Linked DNA regions of Homo sapiens: region 1 is linked to region 2. Evidence: fine-mapped expression QTL. A gene starts in region 2. The other region holds a variant in brackets. All regions are shown on one strand. Distances are from middle to middle. Region 1 overlaps REL-DT (REL divergent transcript). Region 2 holds the start of PUS10 (pseudouridine synthase 10).

What was found. PIP is the estimated chance that this variant, and not a neighbour inherited with it, causes the effect.
Region 1: its variant is fine-mapped to the expression of PUS10 in monocytes after LPS (Quach 2016, PIP 0.95).

Annotation. Positions count from the first base shown.
Region 1 is chr2:60,848,153-60,856,486 of GRCh38, forward strand. It overlaps REL-DT (REL divergent transcript), which reads right to left. Exons shown (of 3, transcript NR_033980.1): 3 at 1-1,082. It also overlaps the pseudogene RPL21P33. Among named protein-coding and RNA genes, the nearest start is that of REL-DT, 29 kb to the right of the region's middle. The variant T/TAAA (reference allele first, on the strand shown) is at 4,636.
Region 2 is chr2:61,013,794-61,022,127 of GRCh38, forward strand. PUS10 (pseudouridine synthase 10) reads right to left here and starts at 4,462. Exons shown (of 18, transcript NM_144709.4): 1 at 4,215-4,462. It overlaps PEX13 (peroxisomal biogenesis factor 13), which reads left to right and starts at 3,927. Exons shown (of 4, transcript NM_002618.4): 1 at 3,927-4,058. The coding sequence starts at 3,967. RefSeq lists an enhancer at 4,334-4,383.

The sequences.
Region 1 (8,334 bases), 170 kb before region 2:
GTGTGGCAGGCCAATTCTCCCTGACAATCGCACAGACAGGCCTGCATGACAGTCGCACAGACAGGCCTGCGTAGCACCCGTTACACAGACAGATTTCCACAGTGCTGCCTGAACATTGAGCAAATAGTTAAACCTAGAGAAATCGGTGCTGAGACATCCAAGCTAGAAATGAAACATACAGTCAGTAGGAGCCTTGCATGGGCTTCTCCCTTGCTGGAGCAAACCAAAATAATAGAGACAGTTTTACATTCCTAGTGCCAGGACCCATCTCAGGTCGACAAAATCTGAGACAAGTCAAGGTTACAGAGGCAGCTGTTTTAATAAATTCATTGGGAAGTCTAAGGCAGCTCTCCAGACCAAGCTGTAAAAGAGATAAGATAGAAATAATCACTCCGTACCACCATAGACAGGCCTTGAAGGTACTGGGGCCCTTTTAATCGGACTTAGCATTTCTTTTTTTTGCCTCTGACCTTCTAGTTGAAACAAAATTAGTTACCAATAGACTTAGGCGAATGCTAGACTGCACTAAGAAAATTTTAACACTTTTGAGTTGGTCTGGTGGAATTATCTCCGGCCTTCTCCCTGTATCCGGCTATAGTAGTCAATTCCCTTCTTTCCTAGTTTGTCTGCTTCTTGTTATTGAGCCTCCAGAAAATGCAGCCGGACCTAGCTTGGTTCCGGGAACAGGAGTGGGAGCCTCGGGGTACTGCAAGGAAAAGGGAAAGAGAGAAGACAAATGCAGGGCGGACAATCCAAGGAATGCCTGATCCATGGGAACTGGACTTGCCCAGGGTCTTTTCTGCCTCTAATAGGTTCCGAAGCAGGTTCTCCACATGTGCCCCTGCTCGATGCTCTCTCCCAGGTTCATTGCTCCTCCTATCCAAAGACTTCTGCCTGCTTGCCTCACTAATGGTGCCTCTTTTAGGTTGTGTCACAGCCTTCCCATTAAAAATTCCCATCATCCTGGTCAGGCACGGTGGTTCATGCCTATAATCCCAGCACTTCGGGAGCCCGAGGTGGGCGGATCACTTGAGGTCCCAGGAGTTCGAGACCAGCCTTGGAAACATGGTGAAACCCCATCTCTACTAAAAAAAATACGAAAAAAAAAAATTAGCAGGGTGTGGTGGCTCACGCCTGTAATCCCAGCTATTCAGGAGGTTGAGGCAGGAGAATCACTTGAACCCAGGAGGCAGAGGCTGCACTTAGCTGAGATTGCAACACTGCACTCCAGTCTGGGTGACTAAGCAAGACTCTATCTCAAAAAAAAAAAAAAAAAAAAAAAAAAAAAACCAACACTATCCAGTGGCATGTCCTAAGAAAAAAATTAAAAAGCTATTTTCAGCCTGTGTAAGTTAAAGGTGGGAGAGGGTGGAGGAGATGCTGACAGCCCCAGTGCCTGGTAGACAGGGGGCAGTTTGCTTTGCTCATTTATATACAGTAGTGATCACTGAATGGCCAACCCATCCTCCAGCTGGGACCAGCCATCAAAGACAGATGAGGCAGCCACTTACCTAGTGTGATCAGAGGGAGACCAAAGACTCTGTTGCACCAACCCCTTGCCACAGTATTTACCGTGCTCTGATCAGGATAGCCCTTCCTTGGGTAAAGACCCCATGTTTCCAGGGGCCACCTTTCAAAGCCCCAGATGTCCTTGTGGAAGGCAGAGGGTTCAATCCAAGACAATCCTTTACACCTGCCAGTTCCAAAAGAGGTCTACACCATGTGTGTCTAAATATTTAAAAGTTATAATCAAGCCAACAAACTGATGAAATATGTTCCATCTTCCTACCCTGATGACAATTTGGAAGGCTGGGTTCAACTTCAGAATTCTCAGACTCTACTTAGACTTCTCTGCCAGAAGTGGTGGCACATGAAGGGCCAGCCAGCCCCTAGCCCCAGCTCATGTCCAGCCTCCCTTCTCCTCCCACCCTGGATCCCTCCCACACCACAGGGGCCTCCCGTATAGGTATGTGGGCACCCCTGCCTGCACTTTCAAGCTCTGTCCAGCTGCCCCTTGGGTACTCTGGGCTTTGGGATGCACACACCACGAACGTAGTCTGCCCTTGAGACCACCGATACTGGGAACAGGCCTGCAGGAGAGCTGGGGCTCTTTGAGTTCTCAGGTTCCCAAACTGTGATCTTGAAGGAGAGCATGGGCTCCAGGCTGGGGAGGAGTCCCCTTGGTCCTAAGGACTCTTCACCCCATGGAGAGGGGCATGGCAGGAGCAGGCCCCTCTAAAGTGCAGGACTCAGGGCAAGGGCCCTCTTGCCAGTTCTAATGAATGAAGCAGAGGACAGAAAGATACCAAGGAAGAGAGAAAGGAGAATGTGTGGACAGCATGGGATGCTCCCTGGGGAGGAGCTCACAGTGAGGAGTCCCTGGGCAGCCAGGGGGCCATCCCAAGATTGGGGAAAGAAAAGCTAGGAAAGCAGGAATGTGAAAGGAGGTGAGTGGAAAGTAAAAAGGCACTGAAAACAAACCTACTTGATAACAAACCTTGCTCTCTTTGGGTATATTTTATTCATGTATGTGTGATGCATTTTTTGTTTGTTTGTTTGTTTTGAGACAGAGTCTCACTCTATCTCCCAGGCTGGAATGCAGTGGTGCGATCTCGGCTCACTGAAACTTCTGCCTCCTAGGTTCAAGTGATTCTCATGCCTCAGCCTCCCAAGTAGCTGGGATTACAGGCGCCTGCCACCACACCTGGCTAATTTTTGTATTTTTAGTAGAGACAGGATTTCACCATGTTGGCTAGACTGGTCTCGAACTCCTAACCTCAGGTGATCTGCCTGCCTCAGCCTCCAAAGTGCTGGGATTACAGGCATGAGCCACGGTGCCCAGCTGATGTATGCATTTTTAATTGAACCATTAATCCTACTCCCCAGTTCATGGCACATCATCATCATCCTTATTATATATTTGGGTGGTAAAAGGTCACTTTTGTTTTATTTATGTATTTATTTCCTTTCATTTTCATTCCCCAATGCCCACCCCACATCCCCATTGGCAACAATTTTGTACACACAGGGGGCCATCCTGACCCCTCTCTCTTCACTCCTGCGTGCAATAGCCCTGTCTGAACCCAGGAACCATTCCTCTACATAGATCTGTTATGTCTCTTCAAAGTGGTCGTGCATCCTCCATCTCCAGGACAGGATATAGCTGGTTCCCTCCTAGGCCTTGCAGGAAGACTAGAATATGTTAAAACTTCTAGAAGGCCTTGTTAAGCCTAGAATGGACTTTTGCATAGATCACCCCACCTTGGACCCTGTAGAAAGGAAGTGCCAAAATCCCATTAGAAGTCATTTTCATCTGTAAATAAGTCCCTAACATGTTTTATTATTATGTTATTTTGAAGCCTATTACATTCCAGTATCATATTTTAACCTCCTAAAAAAGAGTTTGTCATAAATGTCCTACAGTGGATAATGTGCCTGTACTAATTTTTTTCCCCAGAAAACGGTCTAAGTTTCTGGCTACCACATGTATAACAGTAATTATCATTCTTTATCTTTTATATTGCAGTTATCTCCTTCAGTCATTTCCTGATAATAAATCATTTTGTTTTGTCATTTCTATTACCTTGGCATACCAGAAACATGGGTAGATTTTTATTAACATAAAATAGTTGATTGACTCCTAATTATAGCACCCAAAGTGCAGACATTTCAAATCTGGCTGTCATCCAGTCTGTCCCTGGATCTAAGGCAAAAAAAAAAAAAAACTAAAAAATAAAATAAAATAAAGGAACTCTGGTTGTTTCATAGGAGTGTGTGTGCGTGTGTGTGCATGTGTGTGTGTATTAAAAAATAATTTATATATCTAAATTATCCTGAGGCCAATTTAAAATAAACTTTTAGCATCGATCCTAATTTTCCCCTTTAATAACACATTTATATCTTTTTCTTCTTTTTGTATTTAGAGACAAGGTCTCACTTTGTTGCCCAGGTTGGTCTTGAACCCTGAGCTTAAGGGATCCTCCTGCCTCAACTTGCCAAAGTGCTGGAGTTACAGGTGTGAGCCACCGCACCCAGCCAGATTTAAATCTTAATATGAACTAAATGACCCTTTCAGCCAGAACTGGCATCTTCCAGTAATTTCCCAAAATGACAAACACAAAGAGGTGAGGCACGCAACCCGTGTTCTCTAGGCCTTTTAGAAAACATGGAGTTGTTCCTTTGGCCACATATATGCCAATCTGCGAGAAAGGTGATATTGTAGACATAAGGGAATGTGTACTGTTCAAAAAGGAATGTCCCACAAATGTTATCACGGAGAGACTGGAAGAGTCTACAGTGTTCCACAGCATGCTGTTGGCATTGTTGTAAACAAACAAGTTGAGGGCAAGATTCTTGCCAAGAGAATTAATGTGGGTATTTATTGAGCACAGCCACCATAGCATTATTAAGCACAGCCGCCATAGCTTCCTGAAACATGTGACGGAAAATGATCAGAAAAAGAAGGAAGCCAATGAGGAAGGCACTTGGGTTCAACTGAGGTGCCAGCCTGCTTCACCCGGAGAAGTGCACTGTGTGAGAGCCAACAGGAAACAGCCTGAGCTGCTGGACTCTCTTCCCTATGATGAATTCATGGTGTAATCGGTGTAAAAAAAAATTAAAAGACCTCTGGACTGT[T/TAAA]AAAAAAAAAAAGGGAAGAAAAAAAGAAAACAACAACAACAAATAAATAAATAAATAAATGCACCCTGACCAAAATTGCTAAACAGTTTTTTCCAATCCCATTTATTTTGGTTTTCTAGAAATGTGAACATATGATAAGTTGTGTGGGAAATTGTACGCGTGTGGTATTAGCAGGGGCAGCTTATTATTAAGATGTCTCTGGTGGTAGTAATGTTTCTATGATATCATAGTTGGAAGTTATTTAATTGAAAAAGGTAAGATATTGTAAATAAGAGTCAAATCCATGGTTCTAAAAACCATGCCTGAAGACCAGCTCTTAGGGAATATGGGCTCTGAGGATCAAGACAGGAGAGACGGCAGCAATTGGTCCAGGGAGATGCTCTCCCATCCTGAGAGTCAGAGTTGCCCCGTTGCCTTTGCAGTCCCCTCCTTGTTAATCTAAAGTGTGGTTCCTAGGAAACTAAGGAGTTGTCACTAAGGGAGAGTTTAGATGTTTTATCAGATTAGAATTTAAATACTTGATCAATGGGTGCTAACATAATTAGGTCCTAACAAAATTGCAGGCAAACTCTAAATGAAGAAGTGCCTTTGTCGCTGCTGCCCTAATTGGGGTTTGGAGGTATCTCAGGACTCAAGCTGGGAGATCTTTCCTATCCAGGGCAGGTGTTAGCTCACGAAGGATTTTTGTGCAAATTAGGGAAGGTCCTCCAGATAGACTGACAGAGCCTGTACCCAAGGTGCCTGGCCAGGAGTGTGGGGCCTGGGCTATAGCCCCCACCATAGCCTCCACAGTACATGTGGCTGTCCTTCTGTGTCAGTGTTCAAACAAGTTCTAGCCTCCCCCTGGACACCCTGTCTCCTTCCAGTGACTACCTTAAACCTCAGTTCCCCTTTCCACCCTTCTGTAAAGTCACCAGTGGTTCCATGTGGCTAAGTCCAAGGAATTGGTTTTGTTCCTCATATTACTGCCCACTTAGGAAACTCTGACCCTGCGGATCACTCTCTCCTTAAAATGCTCTTGCCTCTGCCTCTGTGATGCCACACGCTCCTTGGGTTTCTCCTCCTACTCTCCTTTTTCCTCTTAGTTTGGGGCTTCCTCCTTGCAACCATGTTTACATGTAAGCTTCACTCAAGCCTCAGTCCTGACCTTCCTCTCTTCCTATTCTCGACTCTTTCCATGACCTAAGATATGATTCCCACAGCCAGGGAAAGCCTTATTTCTCTATCTTCACGTCCATCCCAGAGGGGACAGTACTGGATCACCTCCCCTGGCTGTCTCTCCACCATTTACCACTCTTTTCCAAAGACCAGGTAAATGAACCGATGGGGGGATGGAAGTGGGGTTTGGGGAAAGGCTGCATAAGCTCTAGGGAGCCAAACTGGACCACATGGGTGGTCTGGCAATTTCACCAAGGGGCCTCTGCCTCTGCCGAGGGGAGGTCCACAGCGGAGTGGGGAGATTCAGTGCGGGGGAAGGCATTAGGAAGATTAGTGGTGTCTGCAGAGTCCCAGCTGCATTTTCCAATCCAACTTTATCAGCAATAAAGTTGATATTGATCCCTAGCTGTGGACTCATTCTACTTCTCAGTTGGTTCCAACTCAGTGGAAGGTAGATGATGCGTACGTCTACCACCACCCTCAAAACCCGCACAGGGCCCAAAGCCCAGGAAAGCTTAAGGAACGGGCACAGGGATGGAGACTTAAGATACACCCAGTAAGAAGGATGCTTTGGACAGGAGGGGATTCTAGGTCCTTGACTTATTTAGGATACAGCAGTTTAATGAGACTGGTGTCACAGGACCTCAGCAAACTCAGGCCTTTGCTACCTTAGTATACACAGGTTGCGCAGACTTTTGTAACTGATAGATCTAAGCAGGTGCCGCCAACATTAGAGGAATCGTTCAGTCACTTAAAACTTGCAGAGCTTCAGTGACTACATTCTTTAGATATCAGTAGTTGGGATACTTTTTTGTCGTGCCTATCATGCTTCTCAGGCAGGGACAGGCCAAAGGAAGCTAAGCTCCATGTGGGCTACAGCTTCGGTTCTCAAACTCTCACATGCATAAAAGTCACTGAGTAAGCTTATTAAAATACAGTTTCCTGGGCTTCCACTCCATGATTGAGTAGGTCTGGGGTAAAATCTAGGAATTTGCATTTCTAACAAGTTCCTAGGTGATGCTACTGGTCTGAGGACCACTGGGTTAGAGTACACTAGCCTGTGTGGTTCTAGCCTTCCACGCATTCAATCAACTGCTTCAAATTCTCTTCCTATTTATGTTATGTTGACCTGAATCCGATTTTAGGGCCAAGAAAAGAACTGTGGTGGAATTAATATCCTGATTCTGTACACTTACCTCCAGACTCCTAGAATCACCCTCAAAACCCATGGCATAGTTTAAAGTCCTCTGTAGATTTGTTACTTAACCCTGGCCATGGTTTTGATCAGAGACCCAGATTTGGAGGTTCAGCCACAGAGGGTAGTGGCTTTTTATCAATGAACAGATAGAGAAACTGGGGACCTTATTTTACAGGTGGCTGGCCATCTTTTGGGGCATTAATGAAAATATTAGTAAAACCAAAGATTAAGAGGAATAGGTTGGATGGGGTGGCTCACACCTGTAATCCCAGCACTTTGGGAGAACAAGGAGGGGAGACTGCATGCCTCCAGGAGTTTGAGACCAGCCTGGGCAACATAATGAGACCTCATCTCTAAAAAAAATAAATAAATAATTAACCAGGAGTGGCTGTTTATAAATGCCTATAGTCCCAGCTACACAGGAGGCTGAGATGGGAGGATTGCTTGAGCCCGGGATATCAAGGCTGCAGTGAGCCATGACTGTACCACTGCACTTAGTTAGCCTGGGCACAGAGCAAGACCCTGTCTAAAAAAAAAAAAAAAAGAAAAAAAGAAAAAAACTGGCCAGGCGTGGTGGCTCATGCCTATAATCCCAGCACTTTGGAAGGCTGAGGCAGGCAGATCACTCGAGGTCAGGAGTTTGAGACCAGCCTGGCCAACATGGCGAAACCCCGTCTCTACTAAAAATACAAAAATTAGCCAGGTATGGTGGCGCATGCCTGTAATCCCAGCTACTAGGGAAACTGAGGTAGGAGAGTCACTTGAACCCGGGAGATGGAGGTTGGAGTGAGCCAAGATCACGCCCCTACACTCCAGCCTGGGCAACAGAGCAAGACTCCATCTCAAAAAAAAAAAAAGAAACCAAAAAACCAAAAATGAATAGTAAAAAGACCTGTGGCAAGAACACACTGTCTCCAAGAATCAAGGAGGAGCTGAACTGGTTGAGACACGCTGACCTTGAAGTCAGAATGAGAGCAGTTGGAGAGAAAGAGAAGTAATGCAGCTAGGCTGATAATGGGGGAAGGGAGGACAGCAGGGGAAGAAGCCTGGGGTTCAGCCAGAGACACACCTGGGTTGTTTGCAGCCAGTGTCCATGCTGACTGGCTAAAGCTGAGCCTTACCACCATTGCCATGTAGAGGGAAGGATTTCCTTAAGAGAAATGTTTTGATTGTGAAGGCAAGACTAGTCCAATCTAAAAGGCAAAGGGAGATATGCTTGGACCCAACTGCTCTCAAATAAGGTATTATTAATAGAGACTCTTTTCCTTTGGCTACTACTAGGCCGGAAAGGGTGACTCGGGTCCAAAGAACTCCAATAAAAAAGGAGAGATTTCAGAGAAGAG
Region 2 (8,334 bases):
GTGGGCAGATCACTTGAGGTCAGGAGTTCAAGACCAGCCTGACCAACATGGTGAAACCTTGTCTCTACTAAAAATACAAAAATTAGTTGGGTGTGGTGGCTGGCGCCTGCACTCCAGCCTGGGCAACAGAGTGAGATGCTGTCTCAAAAATACAAACAAACAACAACAACAACAACAACAACAAAGTTGATCAGCAGGTCTAAAGACATCAACTTTACTTTGATTATATGACTAAATGGCAACCACCTGTTAACAAAATAAAAATCTGCCCCTTTCATGAGTAAAACCTCCAACAAAAGGTCAGGCGCAGTGGCTCACACCTGTAATCCCAGCACTTTGGGAAGCCGAGGCGGGCGGATCACCTGACAACAGGAGTTTGAGACCAGCCTGGCCAACACGGTAAAACCCTATCTCTACTAAAAATACAAAAAACTATTAGCCAGGTGTGTTGGCGTGTGCCTATAATCCCAGCCACTCAGGAGGCTGAGACAAGAGAATCACTTGAACCCCAGGAGGCGGAGGGTGCAGTGAGCCGAGATCATGCCACTTCACTCCAGCCTGGGCAATAAGAGCGAAATTCCATCTCAAACAAACAAGCAAACAAACAAACAAAAAAACCTTCAACAAAAACAAATTAAGTACAAAATATTTGAGAGCAACTGTTTGCTTAAATTGCCAATTTTTGCAATTTAAATAAACTCACAAAAAAATACTATATAGAGAATGAAGGCAAATCTGTCTCCTGTTACCGGGAAGGAGGGGGTACTAAAAATTCAAACAACCTAATTTGTTCAGCAAAACAAGATCTTCTAATTAGTGAAACAGTTCATATTACCTTAAAATGATCAACTGCCCATATTTTAGAAAATAATCATTGCATGGCAATCTTATGGCATGCTGTAACTGTGGTCATAAAGATGAACGACAGTGGCATCTTTTAATTTGTGCAGTTTCATAATTCAAATGAACTTGCTTAAAATTTGTGGAAGGGTGAAGCTCCTCCCAACAGCTTAGTATAAAGACGTGATTCTTCTAGTCTGCGTTTTCCAAACCTCTAAAACTTCCTACTTACTTGCAAGTTGCTAAATGTTTGGGGCCACTTACCAAGATTCTTGCACAAAATAATGAGGAAGACAGGCATATAGTTACATAGAACTCTTCACCATAAAAATCAGTTCAGCAGCCAGGACTACTAAAAACAGATTGCCTCTGGCTGAATTCTAATTCAGGGGAATATGTGAGTCAGCAGAGGGAAGAAAATCAGGCTTGTATGGACACACCATACAAGCTGACAAGGTGACAACTTTGAAACACCAGAATTGAGAAACGCATAGTTAGGGTTGCCTAAGTAAATTTGGGCTCCAGGGTATTTTCAAGAAAGAAAACAGAATATGTGGAAAACAGCCTCTAAATAATGAAGATCTGGCCAGGCCCAGTGGCTCACGCCTGTAATCCCAGCACTTTGGGAGGCCGAGGCAGGCATTATCACTTGAGGTCTGGAGTTCAAGACCAGCCTGGCCAACATGGTAAAACTCCATCTCTACTAAAATACAAAAATTAGCCACGTGTGGAGGTGTGCACCTGTAATCCCTGCTACTCGGGAGGTTGAGGCAGGAGAATCACTTGAACCCAGTAGGTGGAGGTTGCAGTAAGCCCAGGACTTTGGGAGGCTGAGGCAGGAGGATCATGAGGTCAGGAGATCGAGACCATCCTGGCTAACACGATGAAATCCCATCTCTACTAAAAATACAAAAAATTAGCCATGCGTGGTGGCACGCACCTGTAGTCCCAGCTACTCAGGAGGCTGAGGCAGGAGAATCGCCCGAACCCAGGAGGCAGAGGTTGCAGAGAGCCAAAATCGTGCCACTGTACTCCAGTCTGGGCAACAGAGCGAGACTCCATCTCAATAAATAAATAAATAAGATCTGTGTGGTCAAGGTCAAGTCATTACTATTTACTAGTGATCTGGATCCCTTTTCCCAGCCCATTTAATCTACTTTGATGCAGAGAAGAGATCGGATGCTGTGAGGGGCGAATATAAGCATTTACAGTGCATCTCTGACTACATACACAGAGAAACTGTTTCTGTTTCACCTGTTACTCTAAGTTATTTTTTCTCCATTAGTTAAGGTCAAGAATTTTACTTAATTCAGAAGTAACATTTAACTCAAAAAGAGACAGAAGAAATACACCCTCTTCCAATAAATCAATAAGCACTTTAAAAGGACACTTAATGAAGATTTCCCTCGATACTTAAATAGCTATATTAAAATTTATTTTATTTTCCATGGCTAGAAGACAATGTTTATTTTTCCAGTAAGTTCACAAGAACAAAGGTATCATGCAAAGTAAATAAATGACACATTACAATCTCCTGGCTCTGAGAAGTTCCCAAACCTGATTGATGAGAATTACAAAACTTCCAGTCCTGAGTAATTTGAAGAGGTCTAAAAATAGACCCCAAAAAAGACCTCTTTTGAATGTGTGTTAATAAACGAGCTATGAATTTACAAACCTCTCAACATCATTTTCACCTACCAACAATTTATCAACTTCTCAAGAATGTTAACATTAAAAGGAGAAAATACGTTACGTCTTAAATTTGGTTTTTTCATCGTGAGATAATTAAATGCCAGGATTTCATAAGATATTAGAAATCGGTTGTCCATATTAGATTTATTATGTTTGAAAGCAAGCCCTGAGAAAGGCATTCCACAATGTAAGTTTTCCAGTGTTGGTTACCCTCAAGATGTTTGCTTTTCGTTTATGTGTTTGTTTTATAGAAATAACTCTGTAACAAGTTGCTACAAAGCCGCCTTTCATGTGTCAGGCTCCCTAGGAGGACTGAATCCCTCCTCCCCAAATCAAGGATAACTAGCCCAGTCTCTGGCTTACTGGAGGAGAGGAAGGACTTTATTTTCACCTCTTGGACGATTACAAAAACCAGTCATCGAAAACGAGAAAAGGGGCAGGGTATAAGAAAAACTAGCGAAATGACCAGACTGAGTCTCATATCCTAAGATCTTTTAAAACTCATTTCCCTACCGAAGGGTGTCATTCGTAACGCGGCGTGGGGCTGGGGGTGTGGATTTACGGAGAAAGAGGTGATCACACTTCACTGGGCTTCTGAAACATTCAGCTCTGGAATCTACTGTGGACTCTTGAAAAGTTCATCCCGAGATCTAACCTCAAGCCTCAGTTTTCGCCAAGCAAGCCCTTCCCCCTTCGGTCAGGTGCAACAAACTTCCCACTCACCCCTCCTTTGCTAACAAAGCCGCTCCAGCAGGAGAGAAACGAACTCTCTCCCGCCACACCTCTTTTGCACCCAGTCTGCACTCCTTCACCTCTTACCTACCCGCCTCACCTTCTCCCCAGACGCCGGAGCCTGAGATTTAACCCCTTCCGGCCCTCGAAGGGAAGAGGGAAGACTAAAGACAACGCACCTATTGCGTCTAGCAATTCTGTTCCCCGAGGAAACGTGCGTTTTAGAACAAAAGTACCAGCCCGCTCTCGCTAGGACTAAGTGAGCTTCTCCCTTCTTGTTTGTAGAGGAAATCCGAAAAACTGCCTGGTTTGCCACCTCACCCTACCTCCCCCACGAGCGAAGGAGTGCGTGCGGCTTTACTCCCAGCCCGACTGGTCCACTCCCAGAAAAGCCTCGGTGGGACTCCGACGTCTAGGGAGTTGTAGCCGCTACCAGAAATATCGATGAGCCTTTACCCTGAGGTTTAGAAAGGCAGCTCTTTCTGGGGCAAATACAAAGAGCGTGTTTCTTCCTACAAATTAGTGGCATCCTCCCGCTGTATGGATTCAGCTGGCAAAGTAACTCAAGCCTTGTCCTGACTGCAAGGGTGGGCGGGGTGGACGGCTCGGTGTTCTGCCCGTTGTGTCTTACGCTCCAGGTGCTGGTCTACGCGGGCCTGGACAGTCAGGGGTAGGAGCGGGAGCCGAGAGGAGGCGGAGGAGATGGCGTCCCAGCCGCCACCTCCCCCCAAACCCTGGGAGACCCGCCGAATTCCGGGAGCCGGACCGGGACCAGGACCGGGCCCCACTTTCCAGTGAGTGTGGGATTCTTCAGGCTGTGAGTTTAGTGGGCCCGAGCGGGGACTTGGCAGGAGGCGGTTGTAGCGGTTGTTAGTGGAGGTATTCCCTTCCCCCCTTTAACCAATACCCAACCTTGGGGATAGGGGCCGAGGTGGAGCTGGGGCGCTTACCAGTGGGGACTTTAGTGTCTCACAGCTGTTTCTGACCCGGCAGCTCTAATCAGCAACGTTTTTTTCGGGAGCTCCTGGGCGTCTCTCTGGGTCTCTGTGCTTGAAAGAAAGGGGGGCGGCTTCCTACCTACCGCTTCTGTTTTCACTTTGACAGAATGGCTTCTCTATCTTTAAAGCGTAGACTTTGGTCTGTAGCAGTTGAGAGCGGCATTTGTCCAGCCACGGCATCGACAGGGAGCAAAGTCTCTCCTTAAAGGTGTTAACCTCTCGAGAAGTTGCTGAAAGCCGGAAAGGTTTTACGCAACAGGAACTCAAGCCCCGTACACTTTGCATTCTTTTCCAGCATAACTCAGCCAGTGTTTCGGATCGAGATTGGAGAAGCAACTTTAAAGCAGGAGTTCTAGATCTGAGGCCTATGGATGGACTTTGTGTGCAAAATAGTGTATTTTTCTGAGGCCTGTATTTTTTTTTTGTTTGGTTTTTAATCAGTATCAGTTGGTTTCTAGGACTTTAAAAAGGCTAAAACATGCAGAGTTGGGAGTGTTTCGTGGCCTCGTGTGGCTTTTGTTTGGTAGTGCTGGACATCTTAATTCAGATAGGTGTGATTCAAATGTCAAATCACCTACTATTGTAGGTTTTCCTAAGCGTAAAAACCCCAACATATTGGAATGTATTTCTGCTGTATTCTGAAATCTTTTATTTAAACACTAAAATGCTTTAACACAGTAACGACTTAGTTTAATAAGGATATATACATAACAAGTAATAAGTTTGATTAGGCTGGTAAGCCACGGTGACATTATCTGCTACCTTTTTTTTGAGTGGGTTCTTTTTTCCCCATTTAGGCTGCTTGTCGAATGAGAGAGGTTTTATTTTTTGCATCTGTTAAAGTTCTTTTTATGTAAAATTAACCATTTTCCCACTTTATCGTGAAATATTTTAAACACAGAGACCAGTAGAGAGTAAGATAATACCTATATATTCACTACTCAACTTTAAACAGTGTTAACATTTGCCAGACTTATGTCGAATTTTTCAAAATAAAAGACGGCTAAACTCTCCCATTCTTCTTTATAGTGGTGACTATTGTCCTTATTTGGTGTTTCGCATACCCAGTAATGTTTTTATATTTTAGTACTTAGGTTTGTGCTATTTATATGCATTTTATATCTAAAACTTAACAATGTAACAATAATATATATTTTATATCTAATTACATGTTACTATTTATATATTATTTTTTGTATCTGTTTTTGTTTTTTCTGTTGCCCAATTTTCTATTGGCTTTATCTTTGCTTACCAATTTGTAAGAGTATTGTTAAACTAATCCTTTTTTGTTACTACATTTTGCTAATATTTTTCACTGTGTGGCTTCTCCTCTTTATATTTATGTTCAATTTTTTGTACAGATGTTTTTGATTTTAATACAGCCAAAATTGTCATATTTTATTGTTTATGCTTTTTGTCTTGGTTAAGAAATCCTGTCTACCTAGATCAGGACAGTTTTTCTGTATGTTTTCTTTTAAATCTTCCGGTTTTTTCATTTGCATTTAATCCACATGGAACTGACTTTGTATAAAAATCTAATTTTTTTTTCCATATAGGTAACTAATTGTCGCAGCACCATTTATTGAGTAGTCTATTCTTAGTTTTTAATGCCATCTATGTCATATCAAGGTTTCCTAAATATGTAGTTCTGTTTTGGGCATTTTCTGACTTTCTACTAGCACCACACTATCTTAATTACAGAATTTTATAAGTCTTGATATGTAGTATGTCAAGAGTTTCCACACATTGCTGTTCTTTGTAATTGCGCTCTTTACACTTAGTCCTTTATAAAAAGACTTACTGGGATTTTTATTGGAACTGAGCTGAATTTATGGATCAAGTAAGTTTTTATTCCATGAATATTGTATAAGCTACAATTGGTGGGAATTTATCTTTTTGCCTTAAATATCTTATAATTATCCACTTTGGGAGACTGGGCGGGCAGATCACGAGGTCAGGAGATCGAGACCATCCTGGCTAACTCGGAGAAACCCCGTCTCTACTAAAAATACAAAAAAACATTAGCTGGGTGCGGTGGCGGGCACCTGTAGTCCCAGCTAATCAGGAGGCTGAGGCAGGAGAATGGCGTGAACCCACGAGGCGGAGCTTGCAGTGAGCCAAGATCACGCCACTGCACTGCAGCCTGGGCAACAGAGGGAGACTCCATCTCAAACAACAACAACAACAAAAAACTTATAATTACCTCCATGAAATTTTTTTCCATATTTTATTTTTTATTCCTAGATTATTTTTGCTGTAGTAGTTGCAAATGGGCTTTCTTTTTTCCTTTTACATTTTCCAGTTGGTTATTAACTGGTATGGCAGAATGCTATTGATTTTTTTTAATGTAAATATTATGTACAGCATAATCTCAAACTCTTAATTAGTTCTGATGGTTTGGTTGAAATTCTCTTTAGTTTTGTGTAGCCAGTTCTGTCATTTACAGATAAGCTAGCATCCTTGTATTGGTCCTGACTTCCACTGGAGTGCTTCTGAAGTTTTACTGTTAAATGTGAAGTTTGCTTTTTGTTTTTGATAGATATCTTGTCAAAATTCTCTCTCTCTACCTTGCTCAGATTTATTTTATTTTATTTTTATTTCATTTTTATTTTTGTTTGAGATGGAGTCTCACTGTGTCTCCCAGGCTGGAGTGCAGAGACGCAATCTTGGCTCATGGCAACCTCTACCTCCTGGGTTCAAGTGATTCTCCTGCCTCAGTCTCCCGGACAGTTGAGACTACAGGCGCGTGCCACTCCGCCCAGCTAATTTTTGTATTTTTAATAGAGATGGGGTTTCACTATGTTGGCCAGGCTGGTCTTGAACTCCTGACCTCAGGTGATCTGCCCACCTAGGCCTCCCAAAGTGCTGAGATTACAGGTGTGAGTCACTATGCCCAGCCCTTACCTTGCTCAGATTTTTATTGTGAAGAAATATTAAATTTTATGAATGGCTTTTCTGCATCTGTTGAGACCATTGTATGTATTTTCGCTTTAGTATGAAAATGTGGGAATAGGAACAGCTCTGGTCTGCAGCTCCCAGCGTGATTGACGCACAGGACGGGTGATTTCTGTGTTTCCAACTGAGGTACCTGGTTCATCTCACTGGGACTGGTTGAACACTGGTCGCACCCCATGGAGGGTGAGCCAAATCGAGGCGGGGCATCACCTCACCCAGGAAGCGCAAGGGATTGGGGGATTTCCCTTTCCTAACCAAGGGATGCCGTGACAGACTATACCTGGAAAAATGGGACACTTCTGCCCAAATAGTGGGCTTTTTCCACAGTCTTAGCAACAAGCAGACCAGGAGATTCTCTCCCATGCCTGGCTTGACGGATCCTATACCCATGGAGCCTTGCTCAGTGCTAGCACAGCAGTCTGAGATCAATCTGCGAGGCAGCAGCCTGGCAGGGGGAGGGGAATCCACCATTGCTGAGGCTTGAGTAGGTAAACAGAGCGCCCAGGAAGCTTGAACTGGGAGGAGCCCACTGCAGCTCAGCAAGGCCTACTGCCTCCATAGACTTCAGCTCTGTGGGCAGGGCATAGCTGAGCAAAAGGCAGCAGAAACTTCTGTGGACTTAAACGTCCCTGTCTGATAGCTCTGAAGAGAGCAGTGGTTCTCCCAGCATGGTGTTTGAGCTCTGAGAACGGACAGACGGCCTCCTCAAGTGGGTCCCTGACCCCCGTGTAGCCTGACTGGGAAACACCTCCCAGTAGGGGCTGACAGACACCTCAAACAGGCAGGTGTCCCTCTGGGACAAAGCTTCCAGAGGAAGGATCAGGCAGCAATATTTGCTGTTCTGTAGCCTCTGCTGGTGATACCCAGGCAAACAGGGTCTGCAGTGGACCTCCAGCAAACTCCAACAGACCTGCAGCTGAGGGACGTGACCATTAGAAGGAAAACTAGTAGACAGAAAGGAATAGCTTCAACATCAACAAAAAGGACATCCACACCAAAACCCCATTTGTAGGTTACCAACATCAAAGACCAAAGGTAGATAAAACCACAAAGATGGGGAGAAACCAGAGCAGAAAAGCTGAAAATTCTAAAAATCAGAGCACCTCATCTCCTCCAA